Linked DNA regions of Homo sapiens. The protein of the gene in region 4 purifies or fractionates together with the protein of the main gene of each other region. This does not show direct contact. Each region holds a gene or a part of one and is shown on either strand. Other genes may lie near its edges.

Region 1 (3,500 bases), on a different chromosome or scaffold from region 4:
AACAATACAAAAATTAGCCAGGTGTGGTGGCCCATACCTGTAGTCCCAGCTACTCCAGAGGCTGAGGCAAGAAGTGCTTGAACCCAGGAGGTGGAGGTTGCAGTGAACCAAGATAGTCCACTGCACTCCAGCCTGGGCGACAGAGCGAGACTCTGTCTCAAAAAAAAAAAAAAAAAAAAGACAATGGCTGAACAGAAAAGGAGAGAGAGAGAGAGAAATAAAGATAACAGCTGAAAAAAATTCTAAAAATAATAGAAGACATCAAACTAAAGATCTAAGAAGCTCAGAGAACAAGAAGCAGAAAAAATACCACGAAAAAATATGATCTAGACTTTCAAGAAAGCTTCCAGTCATCCTGAAAAGGCCATCCACACAGGAACAAAATAGCTAAATGGCAACTTATGCGGACTAGGATTCCCCATCCTCTTACATCATGCCATTCCACAGGGCCCTTTGATAACTGGCACAGCCTCTTGGAACTACGATCCAATGCTGAGATATTTGGGGGTTAGAGAACAATGAAATGACCAAGATTACATTTTTATCATCCAGGTGGAATTAGGATTTATAATAGAAAGCCAATTGAATATTTAAACTAAGTATAAATTTTACAAAATTGAATTTGTGGACCTTGTGCCTTGATTTTTTAAAATAAGTACATTCTTCAAATAATTTTTCTTTAAATGAACACACACTGCTATGGATCAAATATCTGTGTCCTCCTAAAATTCATATTAAATCCTAACTCTTAATGTGATAGTATTTGTAGGTGGGGTCTTTGAAAGGTTATTAGGTCATGAGGGTATATCTCATGAATGGGATTAGTGCCCTTATAAAAGAGGACCCAAAGAACTCCCCTACCCCTCTGCCATGTGAGGACAGAGTGAAAAGATAGCCATCTATGAACATTGAAGTGGGCTTTCACCAGACCTTGATCTTGGACTTCCAGCTTCCAGAACCATGAGAAAGAAATTCATGTTGATCACAGGCTATGGTATTCTGTTTTAGCAGCTCGGACTAAGACACACAGTAAGGTAGGACTGTTTGTTCCATGAGGGCAGAACTACATTCATCTCATTCAGTACTGTTCCTACCACAACAACAGTGTCAGATACATAAGATCAATATGTATGTGTTAAATAAATATGTTGGATGTTAATGGAAATGTAAAAAATTTCATTAGTGTTTTTTTTTTTTTGAGATGGAGTTTTCCCTCTTGTTGCCCAGGCTGGAGTGCAATGGCGCGATCTCGGCTCACCACAACCTCCGCCTCCCAGGTTCAAGTGATTCTCCTGCCTCAGCCTCCCGAGTAGCTGCGATTACAGGCATGTGCCACCATGCCAGGCTAATTTTGTATTTTTAGTAGAGATGGGCTTTCTCCATGTTGGTCAGGCTGGTCTCGAACTCCCGACTGCAGGTGATCTGCCTGCCTTGGCCTCCTAAAGTGCTGGGATTACAGGCATGAGCCACCATGCCCAGCCGAAAACATATTTTAAAGAAAACAATTATTCTCACATTTATCTGTTCTGTAATATTTTTGCAATGACTTCTCTTGAAAAGATACATACCTAAACAAAAAAGGTTTCATTATTTAGTATAAAAATGAATATGTTATGGTAACATAACAAAGTGGGGAACATTCAGGGTACATGAAAAATAATCACAATCATACATCACTGCTATTACAACTATTACATTTCAACATGAAAAATTGCTACGAAACTTCTAGTAGAAAAAAATGGTTTCGTTTAAGCTATAGGTGTTAAGCTGTCATTTAGTTTCAATTTTGTTTCAATAATACAGTGTTTTGTTGTTGTTGTTTCTGAGATGGAGTCTCGCTCTGTCACTCAGGCTGGAGTGCAGTGGCACTATCTCAGCTCACTGCAACCTCCATCTCCCAGGTTCAAGCAATTCTCCTGCCTCAGCTCCCGAGTGGCTGGGACTACAGGCATGTGCCACCACACTTGGCTAATTTTTGTATTTTTAGTAGAGACAGGGTTTCTCCATGTTGGCCAGGCTGGTCTCGGACTCCTGACCTCAGGTGATCCACCCACCTCAGCCTCCCAAAGTGCTGGGATTATAGGCGTTTGAGTCAGCGTGCTCGGCCGATACAGTGTCTTTTTAATGCACGTGTGTTCCTAAAAAGATCATTAATTACTCAGGAACAAGAGTAACATCTTAATTATATGGGCTTTCCTATGTTTATCCCACACCTCATCTAAGGATAATGTAATGGACAACTGGAAGTAAAACAAAATCTATCTCTAAAAAGTCAACAGGGAGATCACCAGACCAACATGCTGTATTTAAGCAAAAGTACCTTAGGCTTTCACTCAGAATCATTTCTATACATATAATTTACACACGGGTCAAATTCACAAAATGACAACAAAATAAATAAATATCACATGCCTACTCCATAGAAATGCAAGGAAAACAGAAGTCTTTAAAAATGTCCAATCATCTCTCAATGAATTGCCAACATCTATTTTTACTACGGGCTAACAGCTTGGGACCCGGGCTCCTGCCACTCAAGAATGGCACCTAAACCAGCAGCAGCAGTTGGCAGCTTGTTAGAAATGCAGACTCTTGAGCCTCACTCAGGACTACTAAGACAGAATGCACATTTGAACATCTCCAGATGACTGATACTGAGAAGCACTGACCCAAAGGCTAGATGAATGAAAGATAAACCAAGCAGCTTCTAATGAGAACACTAGCTACAGTAAAGTTTATATAAATTCCAATCACCCTTAAAGCAAACCAGCCTTAAATACATACCCATCCTCATAGTTCCACATGAATATATCACTGTCAATTGTGAGCCAAGCTCTGCTGATAGGAGGGAACACACCCATCATGCAATTACACTGCATATCTGAGGTAGTGTGGATGTAAGGCAGACAGAGGTGAATCTTATTCTTCTTTAACTTGTTTCAATAGCTTTTGACTTAATATTTACGTAAAAAATCACAATGTGTCCACTCTTTAATACAACATGGAACCCATATACTTAAACGAATTTTAAATAAAACCCTTAAATGAATATATAACACATTAATTAAACATAGAACAAGAATTATAAGAATGAAAAATACCAATTTTAACATTTTTAAAATAAATACAAAGTAATAGGATACGTCCAAACTGCTCAACAAGTTCAGGTGGGAGAGGAACTCTTCGGATGGAACTGATCTCTGGAAGGTTGGGTACGGACAGCAAACCAGGTCCTTGCAAAGGATAATCCATATCTGACATGCCAGAAACGGTGGGATTATCTACAAAAAGAAAATGAAGTATTTATAATAATGTACTGCTCATCAACCGGGCAAACAAAAGGATTGAGTGCCACAAAAAAATTGTTGTGTGTTGGTTCCAAAGGTACAGAGAGAATATTCTAGTTTTGACCCAACACAAAGTAGTCCTGAAATATTCCCTTGTGAAGGTAGGAACAGTTACTGGTTTCAGGCCTAAAGGGAAAGTCATATCTCAAAAAACTT
Region 2 (3,500 bases), on a different chromosome or scaffold from region 4:
TCTAGGAACCAAATGGTATGATTGTTACAACAGAGCTTCACAACCCTTAGTCTCTTGGGAAACAGAAACTCTCCAAAATCATAGGACTAATTACAAGCTGGTAAGTGATTCTTTTCATGTTCTTAAGAAGCAAAATCTCTTAAACTTTCTCTCTTTAGAATAAAAGTCAGCTAAATTGAGAAGTAAGATAAACTGGCAGGAGTGTCAATGATGAAGAGCCCTTAGAAAGGTGCAGAAATATTAAAAGTATACTTTTTTACAGTTGTTCAAGATTAAATCAGGATGGTGCCAAAAAAGTTAAGAATTATAATAACCGATTTAGATAAAAGTCAGAGGAAATATTTACACCATTTACAAATTTTTGGTAAAGAGCTAGAAAATAATGCAAATCTCAAAGGAAAATTAATGTAATTGTTACTCTAATCACTTTCTAATTACCTCAGTATACACATCTTTTATATATATATACACACACACACATATATATATAATTGTATTTACTTTCATATATTAAATGTTTTCTATGTTCCTATAAATGGCTTCGGTATTCTCTCTTATTCATAAATAATTAAGTTTCTTGAAGGATAAGAATTTTATCGTTCTTCTGTTACTCTTCAGGAAGTTTACTACTATATCTTACAAAACAAAATACCATGTAGGACCAACATAGGCTAAATACTCAAATGAGTGTACAGAATATTAAATAATATTTAATTTTTAAAAAGCAGGGAACTAAATGTGATCCCAGAGTGGTTTCAAATCTGGATTTAACCATGAAAGTATGAATTCAAGAGTATATGCATGAAGTGGGATCAGTTCCAGGCTGTTTGTTGTCACTGATTATCTCTCTTCTAAAAGATTCTGCTAGTCTAGTTCAGCATCTGGGTTTCCTTGGGTCAATGAGGCTATTGGGAACCAACTTTGTGACAGATCTAAATGCTAAAAGAATCCCTAAAACATATAAATCATCTAAGTATTATGAAGATGATAAAGATCTATAGAAAGATTACAGTTTCTGTATTCTCTAGGACCCACCCTCCCTCAAATCCTCCTTTCTCATTAATGTTATAGTACTGTGTTTCAAAAAACAAAACTCCTTAGCTCTAGAATATACAAAACCCTTTGCTTAGCACCTAAGTTTCCTCAGCTATAAAGCAGGCTTGGTATTAAGTGTTATAATTAGCCTGCATAGAAGCTGCTAAATAGTTATGACTTTCTCAAAGTGTCTAATATCCATTAAAAACATTACTAGAAACTGGGCACTTAAATTTAATTTTCAATTATGACCTCCGTATCATGTTCTACTACTTAAATGTAGAAAAATAAGACATTAGCTCATTTATATAAATGGAAGGCCATAAATGTACAAGCTTAATTATAGAATCTAGCTCTCAACCCTGGGTTTTGGAAATTATCAGTTTGATTTTGGAAATTATCAGTTTGATTTTCAAATTGTGCTAAGCTTGCTAACCTCATCTGCATAAATTAAGTGGTAATGACATTCTAAGGAACTCCCTCTGGGTATGGAAAGAAATAGAACTAAGTCTTACTTGCCTAAAATATATACTAAGAATGCTCAAGATTACTGTGTACAGGTAAAGAGAAGATGTTTGATTAATCTCTAAGTATAAACATGGGAAATTCTTGCTTCATATCTACAAAAAAAGTGCCATGGCAAAGTAAACATTTCCCAAATATGACTAAAGAAAGAAACATACCCTTTCATAGTTAAGAAAAGGCAGTTCCCCTGAGCTGCAAGCTATCCTCTTCAGGATTTTTGCCTGTCTTCTTTCAGTCTTTATCCCTAGAGTCATTCTTACTGTAATTCTTTTAAAAATTAAAGTGGCCTCATAGACTATCTTGATTGTTTAATACAGCTATCATTTAATTAGTGCTATTAACATGAGCCAGGTCACATCATGATTGACTGATAGATTTTTTTAAAATTCTTACAATAATTTTAGATAATCATAACCCTATTTTATAGATAAGAAACTGAATCTTTAAGAGTCATTAAGTAATTTGAATGAAAAAACACTGCTGGTAAGTGGTGAAACCAGTATTCAAACCCATCATCATGCTCTTGACTATGAGTGGTAAATTAATCTTTCATTATATTTTTCAGTTGACAGATACTTTAGGGTATCTTATAAACAGCAATATATTGAGCATATAAAATGTGAAATATTTCAAATAGAATCTCACTCCTTTGTAAACTAGGATTTTAAGATTAAAACTAGGTTCTCTGAAAGAGGACAGAACTTACAATAAGATATGATAGCACTAATAATAGAAATAGTTTTCCATGAGTATGAAATGCAGTATACTTTAAAAATTTATTTTAACTCCCACAAAAGAAAATATATCCTTGTGATCACATAAAATATAGAAAAACTATAAAAACATGTTGGCAATTCAATTTTTTATTGCTGCTATGGTATTTATTTGGTATAATTTTTCATTTTCTAAATTCAGTCACTAAGTTTAGTAGAAATCAAAGAAAAACAGTGTTCCCAAAAACAGAACTACTAACACACTACCTTAATCCAGGGTCAATAGAAAAGCAGAAAAAATTAACATTAAAACCAAAACAACACTGATAAAGGCCTGGATATCTACAAGATAATCTGAGAGCTAAGTATAACCTTGACTTCATAAATAACCTGTGGGTCATTCTTAACATTCTTTTCTCTTGATCTGTAAATTCAGAAGCAAGCCTCAGTGCTAGAGATATGGAGAATGAAGACTTTTTATTTCCCTATTAATGCACAGTGCTCAAAGAATATAATACGTAAAATCATTTACAGTAAACTGTAAAGTTTCTTTAAGTTTATATGAATGAGACACTCTTAGAGGAAGCAACTGTCAAAAATGGAGAGATTCCCTTCAATGACTTCAAACAAATCCTTGTGAAATACATTTTTTACAGTTCATGTTAATTAAAAATTTACCAACCTATCACCAGGTCCTGCTCGATACCTTGCACCTGGGATCAGGACTGGGTCATCATCACTGTCATCTGTGTCCTGAAGAGCAGAGTCCCTGGTGGATGTTTCTTCATGAGCTGAAGGCCCAGTGGCTTCTGTTTGGAACTGAGGCTCAGGATTGGTGTTATTTTCATTGGTAGCACTCTCAGTGCTAGTCTGATCTGAAGTTTCTGGTTCCTTGGCTTTTTCAGATGAAGCAGATTCTTCTGGAACCCCACAAGAGCGATCAAGATTGAGGTCATTTCTTTCTCCTGAGTTGGAATCCAATGGCTTGGCTGTGAACTTATCTGATTGTGCTGTCAGAAAATAAAGTTGTATGTAACAGGTGGTAATGTGGGCAATACTAATTATTTAACCTAACTTAGGAGCTCACAAACACATTCTAATATGATGTCTAATTCCTCTATAAGGGGAGGAAACTTCCACAATACACTTGAACATGGCCTCTAACTATAGAGAGATTAACATAGATTAAGGCTTTTTATTTTCCCATACAAAGCAATTATCTAAAGG
Region 3 (3,500 bases), on a different chromosome or scaffold from region 4:
TGCACTGAAATACAGTATTTGCTCAATACTGTAAAGCTTATAAAGCTCTCCCATAAATGTTTTTATCTTAATAAACAATGAAGGCCGGGCAAGGTGGCTCACACCTGTAATCCCAGCACTTTGGGAGGCTGAGGCAGGCAGATGATTTGTGGTCAGGAGTTCGAGATCAGCCTGGCCAACGTGGCAAAATCCCATCTCTACCAAAAATAAAGAATAAAAAAATTAGCCGAGCGTGGTGGTGTGCACCTGTAATCCCAGCTACTGGGGAGGCTGAGGCAGGAGAATTGCTTGAACCTCGGAGGTAGATGTTGCAATGAACCAAGATTGCGCCACTGCACTCCAGCCTGGGTGACACAGCAAGACTCTGTCTCAGAAAACAAAACAAAACAGGCTGGGCGCAATGGCTCACGCCTGTAATCCCAGCACTTTGGGAGGCCGAGGCGGGCGGATCACGAGGTCAGGAGATCAAGACCATCCTGGCTAACATGGTGAAACCCTGTCTCTACAAAAAATGCAAAAAATTAGCCGGGCGTGGTGGCAGGTGCCTGTAGTCCCAGCTACTCGGGAGGCTGAGGCAGGAGAATGGCGTGAACCTGGGAGGCGGAGCTTGCAGTGAGCAGAGATCGCGCCACTGCACTCCAGCCTGGGTGACTGAGTGAGACTCTGTCTCAAAAAAATAAATAAATAAATAAAAATAACAACACAGCATGCTTCTCAAAAATCATAAAATTTGAAAATATACTAATATCCTAATTTGGTCCTGATTAATCAATTATTCTTAATTACCTAATCAAGGAGAAGTCAGAACAAATGCACAAAAGAAAGAAAAGAGAAATAACCACACAGAGAGGGAATGAAAAGATCCATAAGCACATCTGTCAACTTCATGCACATAAACCTAAGAACTTGGCTGAAAGAGATAATTTTCTAGGAAAATATAATTTTATTTATTCTTTTTTTTTTGAGATGGAGTCTCACTCTGTTGCCCAGGCTGGAGTGCAGTGGGGTGATCTTGGCTCACTGCAACCTCCGCCTCCCAGGTTCAAGAGATTCTTCTGCCTCAGCCTCCTGAGTAGCTGGGATTACAGGCGCGCGCCACCACACCGGGCTAATTTTCGTATTTTTAGTAGAGATGCGGTTTCACCATGTTGGCCAGGCTGGTCTCAAATTCCTGACCTTGTGTTCCACCTGCCTCAGCCTCCCAAAGTGCTGGGATTACAGGCGTGAGCCACTGCACTTGGTATATTCTTTTTATTTTTTTGAGATGGAGTCTCACTCTGTCACTCAGGCTGGAGTGCAGTGGTGTGATCTTGGCTCACTACAACCTCTGCTTCCCAGGTTCCAGCGATTTTCCTGCCTCAGCCTCCCGAGTAGCTGGGATTACAGGCACGTGCTACCACGCCCAGCTAATTTTTTGTATTTCTAGTAGAGACGGGGTTTCACAATGTTAGCCAGGATGGTCTCGATCTCCTGACCTCGTGATCCCTCCATCTCGGCCTTCCAAAGTGCTGGGATTACAGGCGTGAGCCACCGCATCCAGTCTATTTTTTATTTAAATTGTCTAAATGTACTTATTTATAAAACTGACTCCAGAAGACAGGGAAAATCTTAATACTTCAATAATCATAAAATAACTGGTGAAATTTATTAAAGAGCTATCCTCTTCAAAAAAGCGTCCCAACTAGATTCATAGGATAATTGTATCAAAACATTAAAGAACAAATAATTCCAATACTATTTACATCACTCCAGAGGATTAAAAGAAAAAAAACTTTCCAACTTACTTCCACGAGGCAAGTAAGTATGTTACCAAAAAACCTAGAAAGTGATCAATAAAGAAAGTAAAGACCAGCCTTACTTACATCAGCATAATAATCCTTTTTCTTTTTTTGAGACAGGGTCTCGCTCTGTCACCCAGGCTGGAGTACAGTGGTACAATCATAGCTCACTGCAGCCTCGAACTCCTGGACTCGAGGGATCCTCCTGTCTCGGCTTCCCGAGTAGCTGGGACTACAGGCACGCACAACCATCCCTGGCTAATATTTGTATTTTTTGTAGAGATGGGATCTCCTCATGTTGCCCAGGCTGGTCTCAAACTGCTGGGAACAAGCATTCCTCCTACCTTGGCCTCCCAAAGTGCTGGGATTACAGGTATGAGCTACCACACCTGGCCTAACATCAAACTCTTTAACAAGAATACCAGCAAAAAGAATCCTGCAAACATTAAAGTGGTAATAACATAACACAACCAAGCTCCCTGCATTTCATGACTGTGAGATGGTTTCATTTCATACAATCTACTCATATAATCATTTTATTACTAGAGCTAAAGAGAAAACCATGATCGTCTGCACATATGTTGAACGGGCATATGATAAAATACAACATACATTCTTGATTTTAGAGGCTCTTAATAAAAAGTAATAGATATATAAGGAAATCCCCATCTCAACCCAAAGCCAGCATTAGGTTCAGTGGGATAACGTCAGAAGTATTCCTTCTAAAGACAGGAACAAATTGATCTTACCAGTTAGGATAGGCTAACATGCTGAAGTAACAACCCTTAAAACAACAAAGGTAGGCCAGGTATGGTGGCCTGTGCCTGTAATCCCAGCACTATGGGAGGCCAAGGAGGATCACTTGAGGCCCAGGGGTTCAAGGCCAGCCCTCGCAACATAGCGAGACCCCAGCTCTACAAAAAGAAAAAAAAAAATGAGCGGGGTATGGTGCCATATACCTGTAGTCCCAGCTACTCAGGATGCTGAGCCCAGGAGCTTGCGGCTGCAGTGAGCTATGATCAAGCCACTGCACTCCATCCTGGGCAATAGAGCAAGAGACACTGTCTCAAAACAAACCAAAAACCACAAAGGTATATTTCTCACTCAAACTATATGTCTGCAGAGGGGTAGGCTGGGGCCCTGCTCCCTGGCCTCCTCACTCCAGGACCCCAACTGATGGAGCCTCCACCATCAGGAACACCGCTCGTCTCCATGGCAGGAAGGAAAAGAACCAATTCCACACTGGTTCTTGAAGATTTCCACCCAGAAATGACACACACGACAACATTCCCATTTCACTGGCCAAGTGAGTCACCAGAGCCAACTGAATTTCAAGTGAACAGGGAGTACAATTCTATTACATGCCCAGAAGACAAACACATAGAAATGCTCATGAATAGCACACCTACGACTACCATTTACTTGGAAATTAACCCATAACCCAGTATCGGACTTAATGAAAAACCACAGAAGCAATTCCATTAAAGCCAGGCACGTGGCAATGACATCTCCAAGCACAATTCTTAACACTGTTCTGGACACATAAAGCAACACAGTCAGGCAAAGGAAGGAATGTGGAGGTAACATGATCACACTGCACAGATGCCATGATTATAGACACGAGAAACAAATCAAGAAGATCAACTGGAAACTACTATAAGTAGTAAAAGGATAAAAGAACATGGCTAAGGACAAAATCATTACAGAGCAATCAACAGCTTT
Region 4 (3,500 bases):
ACTGGGGATAATAGCTTGTAAACTACAAGTGATTATTATCCTAATATAGTTTTTTAATAATCAGGAATTTGCCTAGACCAAACATAATCTTCAAGGAAAATGTCACAATGACATGCTTAACATACCCAGGCACAAAATAGTACAAATATATAAAAACAACATAAAGATTATAATTCCCACAGCTCCTTTCCATTCATGCAAATCACTTTCTATTCCAACTGTGAACTAATACTTGTGACCCTTCCACAAAATGCCTGGGAAGTGTGCAAAACCTCCAGTTATAGGGACTTCTTTCAAAGTAATCCATTCTACTCTGCAGTTATCCCCTTTAAGTGTATTAATGGTAAAATGTAAAAGTTGCTAAAATTTTCTCTGGAAACAAATTTTAGGCAGTACTCATTGAGACAAATCTGTTTCCTTTCATCTGATTCTTCCACCTACCAAATCGAAACTCGTATGTCTTAAAATAATACTTACCCAACACCAAGAATGCGTTCACCATGCTTGGTGATGTTTTCCTGACACTCGGTCTTATTTCCCACATGGAGATGATTAACTTGACTACATAAATTCTGGAGAAAAGGCAGCAACTCGGAGTTGGGTATATTTGAGTTGTCACTTACTTTCTTTGGTAAGAAAGAGGCCATTGCATTTTTAAGATCATTTTCAAGAAAGGAATGGTTTTGAGGCATAACTTTACACTCATCAAGCTTGGTAGAATTCTCTCCACCAGGCAGTTGTGTACTTTTATCAATGTAAGTTTGTAAGTTTTCAGTCACGTTCCCAGATGTCAATCCAGTTCTAAAAGGAAAAGGTGTGGAGGACGACTTGTTTAAGGTTCCTAAGGTAGATGAGGATTGTAGTCCAATCATATGCTTGTATCCAGAATTGCCCAACACCGACTGAAGCTGCTCTCCAATGGGAATACAATTCTAAACAAGGTAAACAAGTAAATGTTAATATTAATAACACTGACAGCTAACTTTTGGAGTAATTACTATGAGTCAGGCACTGTGCATTGTTTCATCCAATCCTCAAAACATCCTTATAAAGTAGGCCACTAATACTATCCCAATATTAAGCTGAGGAGACCAAGGCTAAAGGTACCTAGCCAAGGTAACCAGCCAGTAAGTGGCAGAACTGGAACATGAACGCAGGTCACTTAACTCCACAGTCATGACTTTCAATCATTTCATTGTAGTTTTTCCCAAAAGAAATTAAATAAATACTAGCATGAATAGTCAAACTGCACTGACACTAATGTTTCCACTACAAATGTCTCTTTATGATAATAAAATGTACTACTCTCAACTGAGTCACAAGAACCGGTAAGTTTCTTAAAATTCAATTATATCATTCCCAACTGTCAAAATACGGTAAGTTACTCACTTTCATCTAGTAATATCTTTTGCAATGAATTTTTCCTGGAAACTACACAGATAGGTATGCTATTTAAAGTTAGATGCTCTATGGGTACATTTGTGACATTTTCAATGACTGAAATTAGCTACTTCTGGCTGTGTTTGCTCTAAGAATTTCCAGGATAATGAGAGTTGTTTTGCAGCCTCAATTCAACTGGTTATGCAGTATTATTTCCTGAGAAGATTCTGGCTTACCTTGAAGGGATGATTACAGTATCTCCCTTTTATGCTCTTTAATTTTTCCATTGGATAAAAGAAAATATCTCTAGCCTAAGTCTTAAGGCATATGGCTCCACTCTAAATTCAAAACATAAAAGTCTACTATAGATTCTTATCAGGGGTTATCATCCCACACTTATTGCTGTTCAACAGCTGGTGAAACAGACTGAAAAAGCAATATGTAAATTAGCTGAAGAAACTCAGTTCATATACTTATAGATATTCTAAAAAGTTATTACTAGACTAAGCCGGAACAACATTAATTTATTCAACAAATATTTACCAGGAATCTACTCTGTGCTAGTATTGTTTCAAGCACTGGAAATACAGCAGCGAACAAAATAAATTAAAATCCCTGACCTCACAGAGCCTATATGACAGGGGAGCAAGGAGACACAAACTACAAAAGAAAAGAAGGAAAAAGGGGAAAGAAAAGAAAAAGAGAAAGTAAGGGAAAGAGAAAAGAAGTGAAGAAGGAAGAAGAGAAAAAAGTCAAGAAAAGAAAAGAAAGGAAAAAATGTATCATGAAATGGAGATGGTGATAAATACTTTAGGGAAAAATAAAGTGAGAAAGGAGAATAATAAGGGCCAGGGAAGCTGGGGGAAGATTTGTAATGTCATGTCCCCATCTAACTTTTTACCAAACTGCACTTTGGAAAAGTGCTCTTTATAGAGAAATGTTAACCTACTGTAAGTTTATCTTGTTTTATAAAATGCAAGTTTTGAATAAACTTGAATATTTAAATATTCCTGGAATAAGATGAATTATGTAAAATTATATTTATAAAATGTTAACATTGGACAACTCCCCATAAGCTCAAAGAAAGTTACTCAGTCATAACAGGAAAGCCCATTTATTTCTCTATGACATTTCAAAACAAAATGTACAGTGGAAAACTACATTAAGAGTAATAATATTTACACTACAGTCAATGTCAAAAGTATGGGTGAACATTAAGTAGGCAGAACATTTAAACAGAAAAATCTAAATGTAAAGGTATTTGCTATGTAAATTTTTCCTTTCTGACATATAATATTCTGTTTATAAGAATTCACTGATTATGAAAATTAGTCATTGGTTAAGAATGTAAAATAGTATAGCAGTGATGAAAAACAGTATGGAGGCTCCTCAAAAAATTAAAAATAGAACTACCATATGATCTAACAATCCCACTTCTGGGCATATATCCAAAATAACTGAAACTGGGATCTCAAAAAGATTATCTGCACTCCCATGTTCACTGCAGCAGTACTCACAACCGCCAAGATACAGAAACAACCTAAATGTCCATTGACTGATGTATTGATAAAGAAAATGAAATGAAATATCATTGAATGAATATCATACAATGAAATACCATTCAGCCTTTGAGAAGAAGGATATTTTGTCATGTGACAATATGATCAATCTGGAAGACATGCTAAGTGAAATAAGCCAGGCACAGAAGAATAAATAATGGATGATTCCATTAACATGACATATCTAAAATAGTTAAACTCAGAAACAGAGAGTAGAATGGTGGTTGCTAGGAGATGGGGGGAAGGAGAAATGAATTGCTATTCAATAGGTATAAAGTTACAGCTTTACAAGATGAATCTGTTTTAGAGATCTTCTGTACAACAGTGTCTATAGTTAACAACACCATATTGTACATTTAAAAATTTGTTAAGAGGGTAGATCTCATGTTAAGTATTCTTACCACAATTTAAAAAAGGTCACATTTTCTGAGATGAGAGCTCTTTAGATGATCTTTTCTCTTTGGAATAAATATCAAGAAATTCAGATATGTCTACATGCCACTATAGGAAATGAAGAAATCTCAGGTGCCTGGTAGCTAATCCTTTATTTCTCTTTATGTG

The links. Proteins that work in one complex are often made in the same cells at the same time.
Region 1: the proteins of C10orf88 (region 4) and NUP155 purify together in Homo sapiens (affinity purification with mass spectrometry; one large-scale study listed by BioGRID and IntAct). This does not show direct contact.
Region 2: the proteins of C10orf88 (region 4) and DCAF6 purify together in Homo sapiens (co-immunoprecipitation; 3 studies listed by BioGRID and IntAct, with this or other methods). This does not show direct contact.
Region 3: the proteins of C10orf88 (region 4) and GTSE1 purify together in Homo sapiens (affinity purification with mass spectrometry; one large-scale study listed by BioGRID and IntAct). This does not show direct contact.

The regions. Positions count from the first base shown.
Region 1 is NC_000005.10:37,361,107-37,364,606, forward strand, and holds part of NUP155 (nuclear pore complex protein Nup155), read right to left. Parts: intron 3,279-3,500; coding exon 3,141-3,278; intron 2,879-3,140; coding exon 2,782-2,878; intron 1-2,781.
Region 2 is NC_000001.11:168,044,683-168,048,182, reverse strand, and holds part of DCAF6 (DDB1- and CUL4-associated factor 6), read right to left. Parts: intron 3,284-3,500; coding exon 2,956-3,283; intron 1-2,955. UniProt on the Homo sapiens protein: Ligand-dependent coactivator of nuclear receptors. Enhance transcriptional activity of the nuclear receptors NR3C1 and AR. May function as a substrate receptor for CUL4-DDB1 E3 ubiquitin-protein ligase complex.
Region 3 is NC_000022.11:46,303,370-46,306,869, reverse strand, and holds part of GTSE1 (G2 and S phase-expressed protein 1), read right to left. Parts: intron 1-3,500. UniProt on the Homo sapiens protein: May be involved in p53-induced cell cycle arrest in G2/M phase by interfering with microtubule rearrangements that are required to enter mitosis. Overexpression delays G2/M phase progression.
Region 4 is NC_000010.11:122,937,228-122,940,727, forward strand, and holds part of C10orf88 (ATPase PAAT), read right to left. Parts: intron 933-3,500; coding exon 478-932; intron 1-477. UniProt on the Homo sapiens protein: ATPase that regulates mitochondrial ABC transporters ABCB7, ABCB8/MITOSUR and ABCB10. Regulates mitochondrial ferric concentration and heme biosynthesis and plays a role in the maintenance of mitochondrial homeostasis and cell survival.